Regions from separate parts of the Homo sapiens genome. Here regions 2 and 3 are each linked to region 1. The links come from fine-mapping of genetic effects on gene expression. A gene starts in region 1. Each other region holds a variant in brackets. All regions are shown on one strand. Distances are from middle to middle. Region 1 holds the start of CHPT1 (choline phosphotransferase 1). Region 2 overlaps CHPT1 (choline phosphotransferase 1). Region 3 overlaps MYBPC1 (myosin binding protein C1).

What was found. PIP is the estimated chance that this variant, and not a neighbour inherited with it, causes the effect. A credible set is the group of variants that fine-mapping cannot tell apart.
Region 2: its variant is the best candidate, but not a certain one, in a credible set for the expression of CHPT1 in stomach (GTEx, PIP 0.50).
Region 3: its variant is the best candidate, but not a certain one, in a credible set for the expression of CHPT1 in esophagus mucosa (GTEx, PIP 0.88).

The regions. Positions count from the first base shown.
Region 1 is chr12:101,696,203-101,699,054 of GRCh38, forward strand. It overlaps CHPT1 (choline phosphotransferase 1), which reads left to right and starts at 1,438. Exons shown (of 9, transcript NM_020244.3): 1 at 1,438-1,932. The coding sequence starts at 1,660. RefSeq lists an enhancer at 912-1,161 and silencers at 1,382-1,721, 1,982-2,171.
Region 2 is chr12:101,725,215-101,727,714 of GRCh38, forward strand. It overlaps CHPT1 (choline phosphotransferase 1), which reads left to right. Exons shown (of 9, transcript NM_020244.3): 8 at 1,080-1,190. Among named protein-coding and RNA genes, the nearest start is that of SYCP3, 13 kb to the right of the region's middle. The variant C/A (reference allele first, on the strand shown) is at 1,297.
Region 3 is chr12:101,602,740-101,605,591 of GRCh38, forward strand. The region is part of intron 1 of MYBPC1 (myosin binding protein C1); the gene reads left to right. The region is part of intron 3 of LOC105369938 (a long non-coding RNA gene); the gene reads right to left. Among named protein-coding and RNA genes, the nearest start is that of MYBPC1, 9.2 kb to the left of the region's middle. The variant T/C (reference allele first, on the strand shown) is at 1,686.

The DNA of each region.
Region 1 (2,852 bases):
TGGACTGTTCATGGCATCGGTAAATTAAAAAGTAGTTACTGTCAAGTTCACTGCACATAAACCAGCATTGTTAAAAGTGGATCTCCATCATTCCATTTCCTTTCCTGCATTTGTCAGCATCGTTTTTCACACTAAAGATGAGGAGATCCATATTCCTAAGACATATACGCTTGGTCTGTAGAGACCCTCATTGCTCTAAGGCAGTGGTTGCCAGTTTTTTCCTTAAAGGGCCTAGTAGGACATAGTCCAGGCTTTGCCAGCCATACGGTCTGTCACAACTGAATTCTGCTGCCCTTGTAGCATGAAGGCAGCCAAACAATAGGTAAGGAATAAACATGGCTTTATTCGTGGCACTGAACTTTGAATTTCATATAATTTCACAACACAAAATTGTATTCTTTTGATTTTTTCCAATCATTTAAAAATGTCAAAACCATACTTAGCTGGAGGGCTGTAGGAAAACAGGTGGTGGGCTGGGTCTGGCACACAGGCAGCAGTTCGTGGACCCCTGTGCCAAGTGTTTGACGAAGCCCGTGAGGCAAACTGCACTTGCCGATAGAGGTTGCGCCACACAAGTGTCTTGGAAGCAATTTCTGGCTTGTCCTAGGCCTTAGAAAGTGCGTGCAGATCAGAGCCATGAAGTGAAGAGCAAAGCAAGTGACAGGCCTGTCTCAGGTTGTGCAACAGAACGTGTTTATGACAGATGTCCCCTGTCCAAGTGAGTGCACTGTGAGATAAGGGGCCGGTGACCTACCAATGCGTGTGGCAAGCCAGCCTGTTCCCCCTTGCAGGGGGAGGACACTCCTGCCCTTTATTCCAGGGAAGAGTATGTGTAAAAATATTCACCCTTGTTGGTATCAAATGCGCTGAAGAAAATAGGTATCGGGGTTTCAGCCATTCGGTCTCCTTGTTAGTGTTTCTAAGCCCTGATTTTCAGTTTCAAAACCTTGGTCTCTGAATCCGCAGTGATGGGTCTCTAGAGCGAATACATGGCAGGGCCGCCTTCCTCCGTACAGAAAGGGAGAATTGTGCTTGTGTGTTTTACCAAGCAGGACAGATGGGGCCGTCACCCCCGTGACCCGAGCCCTGCAAAACTGTGTTCTCACACGAAAACCCCCAGGCTCTGCGGGCAGCGTGGTCCTGCAGTGGCTAACACTGGGCGACCGGAGTCGTGTTCCGACCCCTAGGAGAGGAACCGGCTCGGTCGTGGTGCAGCCCGCGAGGAGACGACCTCAGGGCGTAATCCGACGCCGTGGGTTAAGACATCAGACCTCAGGCGCAGTGCAGCCGGCCCCTGGGGAGTCAAGGACCTTGATCGCCGATAACAAGTTGCCGTTGGCGGGCGCCGAGGGTGACCCGCGAGCGCGGCACCCGCCTCCCCGCCCCTAGCAGGACCCCCTCCGCCCCGCCCCCAGCCGGACCCCTCCCCGAGGCCCCGCCCCACCCGCGAGCCGCAGCCGCGGCCCCACAGCTTCTGGGGCTGGGGCCCCGGCAGCCGGGCAGGCCGGCCTGACCTCGACCTCCGCCGTGCGGGCCCGACCGGTGAGTCCAGCCCGGCAGTCGCAGGACCCGGCCGCCAGCCTCTCCCTCCACCTCTCCCTGCCCCCAGCGCCAGGCGCGGGCTGCGCTCGGTGGCGGCGGCGGGGCCCTCAGGCGGCCATGGCGGCAGGCGCCGGGGCCGGGTCCGCGCCGCGCTGGCTGAGGGCGCTGAGCGAGCCGCTGAGCGCGGCGCAGCTGCGGCGACTGGAGGAGCACCGCTACAGCGCGGCGGGCGTCTCGCTGCTCGAGCCGCCGCTGCAGCTCTACTGGACCTGGCTGCTCCAGTGGATCCCGCTCTGGATGGCCCCCAACTCCATCACCCTGCTGGGGCTCGCCGTCAACGTGGTCACCACGCTCGTGCTCATCTCCTACTGTCCCACGGCCACCGAAGAGGTAGGGCTGGCCGATCGCCCGAGCCGGGCCCCAGATGCGCTGCGGGCGGGTCGCTGGAGGCGCCGGGGGAAGGGCGGACCCACGCGCGGCTGAGCCTCTCCCGGGCCCCGGAGGGGCGGACTGGCCACTGCCCCGGGCGGTGTCCGCCCTGGGCCGCCTGGAGACTGTCACGCCACTATCCCAATCCCGTGACCATCCCAAGCCTCCCCTGGGCAGCGGAGGGGCTGTTAAGGTCACTGCCCCAGGTCCTATGTCCGCGCAGATCCTCCCCACGGCCGCGGACGGGCCGGAGGGCGCCTGCCCAGCCGCTATCCCATGCGGCGCCAACCTGTGAGACGGACCCGCGGTCGGGTGCTTTGCACACTGGGGACTGAACACCCCCATCTCCGTCCTGCCTGGCACAGGGACTTGTGCCAAGCCCGAGACGCCCTTTGAATACTTTCGTAACCGTTCGTTTCTGGAAGGTTGAGCTAGTGATCTTGAAATGACCGGTAGCACTGATCAAAGATGAGTTAAGAGGTAACTTCCTCTTTGCTTCATCGACTTTTTCAAGAAAAACAAACTGGAATGTTATCAAGGCAATAATTTTTTTGTCATCACAACCTAGGGATTAAAAAAACCCCAACATTTTATTAGCAATAATTACATTTGACCTTTGTACAAAATAAGGAGTAAATATAGGCTTTGGATAGCTGTTCATCAGAAGCACCCTTTGGGCTGAGTGTGGAGGGATAGGGGGCAGAGTGGAGTTCACTCCCATCTATAGTTTATACTACGTGGGATAAATATTACATTGCACATTCTGTGACATTACTTTCTATTCTCTGCTCCAAATAGTGAAGTCCCTTTATAATCATTTGAGTGTAGGCCTTGTGGAGGACTCATGGAGGTTGAGGTTGGATTAACAGAAATACAGTGGA
Region 2 (2,500 bases), 29 kb after region 1:
TTCATAGTCCATTCAGAAGTCTTCATTCTTCCTATGGTGGCAGTGAGATATACTTAATTCTTTGAGGTGGACAATGAACGTTTTCAGGCAAAATTAAAAAAAAAAATGTTTAAAAATCAGAATAATGTCCTTTAATTTGGTATCCACTATAAATATTTTTAGGGCTCCCAAACAATCCAGTTTAAAAAATAGGGGATAATTAATCAAAATATCTAAAAACTCAATGTAAGTTTTCTTTTAGTGAACTTAGGTATGTATTACCAAGTGGAATTGCTGAATTAAAATACCAGGTGTTAAAAAAATCAATCATCTGTCGTAACGAGTAATTGGCCTGGTTTACACCTGTGATGGAGACTGGTAAACTGAGGAAGTCAAATTCAATTTTTATTTAAAACACTATGTGGATGACAAAAAAAAAAAAAAAAAGCCACACACACAATGTGGTACTTTTCAAGTAAGCTTTTAACATAAATGATAGAGATTTTCCCCTCATGGGTGAGAATTCCCTCTCCAAGGGCAGAGCTATGAGTCTCCTTTTTCTCCTGGGTTTCATTTTCTGAAGAGAAGCATTTGACTGTAGACTCTGGGCAAAGTTTCTAAATAGAGGCCATCTTTAAATTTGTAAACACAATTCTGTATATGCTTCAAGTATGGTATCTTTTCTAGACCTTTTACCTTCTTACAACTAACCTCAAAGAAACAGAAATGTATATGATGGAATTAATTCATTATAAGATGACTGATAACTTCTTCTAGAAGGAAATTTGCAGCTTCGTGGCACAGCAGGAAGTTGAAACAATGTGGAGTCAGGAGAGTTGGGTTCTGTTACTTTCTAGTTTCTGTATTTTAGTCGTCTTTTTTACCTCTGAGCCTCAGTGTCTATAACTGTGAAATAACCTGCATTTTCCAGAGGACTACAGTGAGGTCCAAATTTGAAATGTATTAAAGTGCTTTAAAATGTAGTATTTTTGGTGAAGAATTTTAGGTTAAGGTTTGATATTTGGGGGAGAAACAGAATAGTGCTACTTGAGAAAAGATAGATCATAATCGATTTTATATTTTCTTTTTTGCTTCTAAAGGTGATTTCTTCATTTGATATGGTGATATACTTTAGTGCTTTGTGCCTGCAAATTTCAAGACACCTTCATCTAAATATATTCAAGACTGCATGTCATCAAGCACCTGAACAGGTTCACAAGCATATTGACTGACTAATAGCCCAAGGAAAAGAGGAGATGAAGTTAGGGGAATCTATGAGTGAAGGAAATCCCCCTGTGCAGGAGGCTAGTATACCAT[C/A]AATAAGGTTATATTTGAATATAAAACATAAACCCTGTAGATTTCATTGTGTCTTATTTCAGTTATGAAGCCCCCATTGTATCATCATTTTTTATCACAGATGTTCTCAGAATTGTCTACATATTAATTAGAAACAAGACTAAAGAAATGTCAATCCTGAGGACAACAGTGAACCCCTGTAATTCTAAGTAGCAGTTTGTCTCTGAGACTTATCAGACACAGGGTTTTCACTGCCAAAGGATTACATAAATATTCAGAACATAAAGGATTTTAGCCATCTTGAGGGTGCTTACTTTGACTGCTAAAAACTGAAAAGTGATTCAATACTGCTTAAGTGCATGGCTTATAATGTAATTATTGAATCAAGTTATGTTCTAAGAAATTTTTTATACTAATCATTTTTCAAGAGGCATATTAGTATGTTATAAAATACTTGCTTTTAGTATACTAGAATTTAAAAGGGCTACAGGAATTTTTTAAATAAAATTTGTATTTAATAAAAGGAATTTGTTGTACCAGTTCAGAAAAACATACGAATCTTTATACTGAAGGTAACTTGTTCCTTGATATTTTGAGTTAAAATTTCACTGTCACTGAAAAGTGGATGTTAAATATTCCCTTTCATGAAAAATGAAAACAGTAGCTAAGAGTCAGTTGACATGTAAGAAAATTAGTAACTTAGAAAAACTTACTTGGTAAAAAAAATCTTCCTTTTAGAATACAAAAGTTTACTTTAAGTACACACTGACTCATTTGAGGTGATAAGGGATAAAATAAGTAAAAGTTATTCAACCACTAAGTACATTAGGTACTGATACTTATCTTTCCACTCTAATTGAAATGTATTTAGATTACTCATTATGAATACTACTAGAACTATCACAAAGATCTCTGGGGATCCAAATCTTCAGATTCCCATCTGACCCTATTTATTTTTAATTTTATATAATAGTTCAACAGACCATATGTCATATGATGAAGTAATCAAAAAAAAAAAAAAGGAGTAATTTGTGTACTACATCTGTTTTAGGCAAGAAAAAGGTATATTGAAGAAAACAGTGAAAGATGATATTCCTTAAAAGCAAAAAAACATACTTATGGGAATTAAGTACACAGAAAACACTGGAGTACTTATTTTGCCTCTAACTAACTATTGGTAAAACTTCCCAAATAAGGACTTTCTTACAAGGATGAATAGTACTTA
Region 3 (2,852 bases), 93 kb before region 1:
TAACCATCATTCCCACCACTATATTTCCTTCTTTTACTTGTGGTGATACATCTTCGCTTTCACCCATAGAAGCTCAGATCAAATAAAAGGTCTATACTCCATGACCTCTGTTGTGTTCTTACTGAAATGAGCCATGTCCAATTCGGGGGTCTGTAGTTGTCAGCATAAGGTGATAACGGTTGGGTTGTTTCTTCACTGTTCTTGTGGGGACATGGCCTTTCCCACTTAGATGAAAGAGTTACCCTACAGAGTTGAACAATATCTATGTCTGTCTCCAAGGGTTATAAGTCTTGGGTTTGTGGGACTTTACAATTTCTCTCCCTGGCCAGGCGTGGTGGCTCATGCCTATAATCCCAGCACTTTGGGAGGCTGAGGTGGGAGGATCACCTGAGGTCGGGAGTTTGAGACCAGCCTGACCAACATGGAAAAACCCCATCTCTACTAAAAATACAAAATTAGCAGGGCATGGTGGCGCATGCCTGTAATCCCAGCTACTCAGGAGGCTGAGGCAGGAGAATCACTTGAACCTGGGAGAACGGAGGTTGTGGTGAGCCAAGATCGCGCCATTGCACTCCAACCTGGGCAACAAGAGTGAAACTCCGTCTCAAAAAAAAAAAAAAGAAGATTTCTCTCTCTTATCAGGGGTGCTTTTTGGTGGATAGGGTCTTCCTCAGTCTGCGCTTTCCTGAGATGACCACATAAAGAACTCTCCATGACCACATATGGATGTGGTGGGTGATTGATTGAGTGTCACTGTGTTTATTGCGGTGGAATTTTATTTTTATGACCCCACCTGGCGTCAGGACTCTTCTTCCTCTATTTTTAAAAAGTCACCCAATGTGAGGTCCAGCAACAGTTTGGAGCAAGGCCTTTAAGAAATTTATCCTATAACCCTATAGCCACATAAATAAGTGATACAAGATCAGGTACAATGGCTCATGCCTGTAATCCCAGCATTTTGGGAGGCCAAGGCCAGAGAATTGCTTAAGCCCAGGGGTTTGAGACCAGCCCAAGCAACATGGTGAAACAGCATGAAAAAATACAAAAATTATCTGGATGTGGTGGTGTACACCTGTAGTCCCAGCTACTTGGGAGGCTGAAGCAGGAGATTCACTTGAGCCCAGGAGGCTGCAATGAGCCATGATCATGCCACTGCACTCCTGCCTGGGTGGCAGAGTGAGACTCTGTCTCAAAATAATAATAACAATAATAACTGATTCAAGATCCCCAAAAAAGACACAGTAAAGGAGGAAACTGTTAACAATTCAAATTGCTTTTGCAATAATTTCTTTTTGACCTATGCTAAAATTTTAAGCTCCTTCAATCTGAGTAAATCTTCCCCTGCAAAACACACCCCATTTGATTCTTTAAAACATGGTAAGAGTAGTGAGGAAGGCAAGTCCTCAGATCTTAGCAATTTTCCCCCAGCCCCATGTTAACAATGAGAAGCTATTTGTTGCTATGTAATAAGGACCATATTTTAATCCTCTTCCTGTGTGAAATGACATCCTGAGATGAAACTTGCATAATTAGAAGGACAAAAGAATGAATTGACTAGGGGAGGAAAAAAAACCCTGTAGATTCAGGGAAATTCCAAAGGTTGAATAATGAGTCATTGAATATTTACATGATCAAGGTACAATTAGACTTCATCTATTCAGAACATTAGAGTACAGTACAGTCTT[T/C]GGCAACATTCGACCATAGTAAATAAATATGGATTAAATTGATTGAATCATTCTGAATAGCTGGATTCTCTGCACAGCTAAAGGTTAATTTTGTTATATAACCTCAGAGCCTTATTTTTTCCACCAGTTTGAATAGAAACATTCTTAAAATGTAATATATTACTCCTTGCTTTAAAAAATAAAGTACAGTGGATATAATTTGTCTTAAATTATAGATATCAGTTATTAGTAGCATGTGACACCCTGAGGGCCCAAATTATTTGCTCTTTTGAAAAATGGACTCATATTGATTTGTATTTTGAATTTCTTTCCAATTTTTCTTAGCTTTCCTACTTTATCCCTCCTAGAAGTGTGCTGTCTTCTTTAGTACTCTTGTCAGTCAGCATATGAAACTGTTCCCCTCACTCCCCTTTGTCCTTTATTATAGACGCCATTCCAGGTAATTAATCTGGCTGAGTAGAGTTTAGCACCACCTAAGGCACAACATTTAAGAAGGCACTGACTTTCTGGGTCACCAAAATGCAGGTTCAGCCCCTTAAGTGACCTCCTTAAATTTTGCTCCTCAGGCACCCTGCTTACCTTTCCCAAGTCCCAGGCCCTGGGTTTACTGAGGAGCTAGGGCCTTCTTCCATGAGGAAAACACAGAAACTCTTAGTGCCTGGAACGTAGGAGCTTGAGATAAATGCAGAGGCCCTTCAGAGGCCCTTTTATTTGGGTGGTCAGAAGCTGTTAGGTAAGTTGCTAGATAGCTGAATTCTGCATAGGGTAGGTGTTACTAGACACTATTGCCCTTTTGTCTCTATTATGGTGCACTTAGGAAAATGAGTTATTGCTTCAAAATCAATGTAAGGTTTTTATTTTGACTGATTCATTCATTTTATCAAAGCTGCAGATGTATATGATATATATGACCTGAGTTTGTTTTAAAAATAACATGCACAAAATCTTTTTCCAAAGAGATTTGCAATAAATTCAAAACCAGTGGTTCAAACCTTTTGGTCTCAGATCCCTTTGCACCCTTAACAATTATTGAATAAACTAAAGATCATTTGTTTATGTGCATAACTAGTGTATTATACACACTAACTTTAATTTGGAATACAGTAAATATTGTATTAGTGTGTCATATATTTACTGAATTAAAAATTAAAATTGGTTGGGCATGGT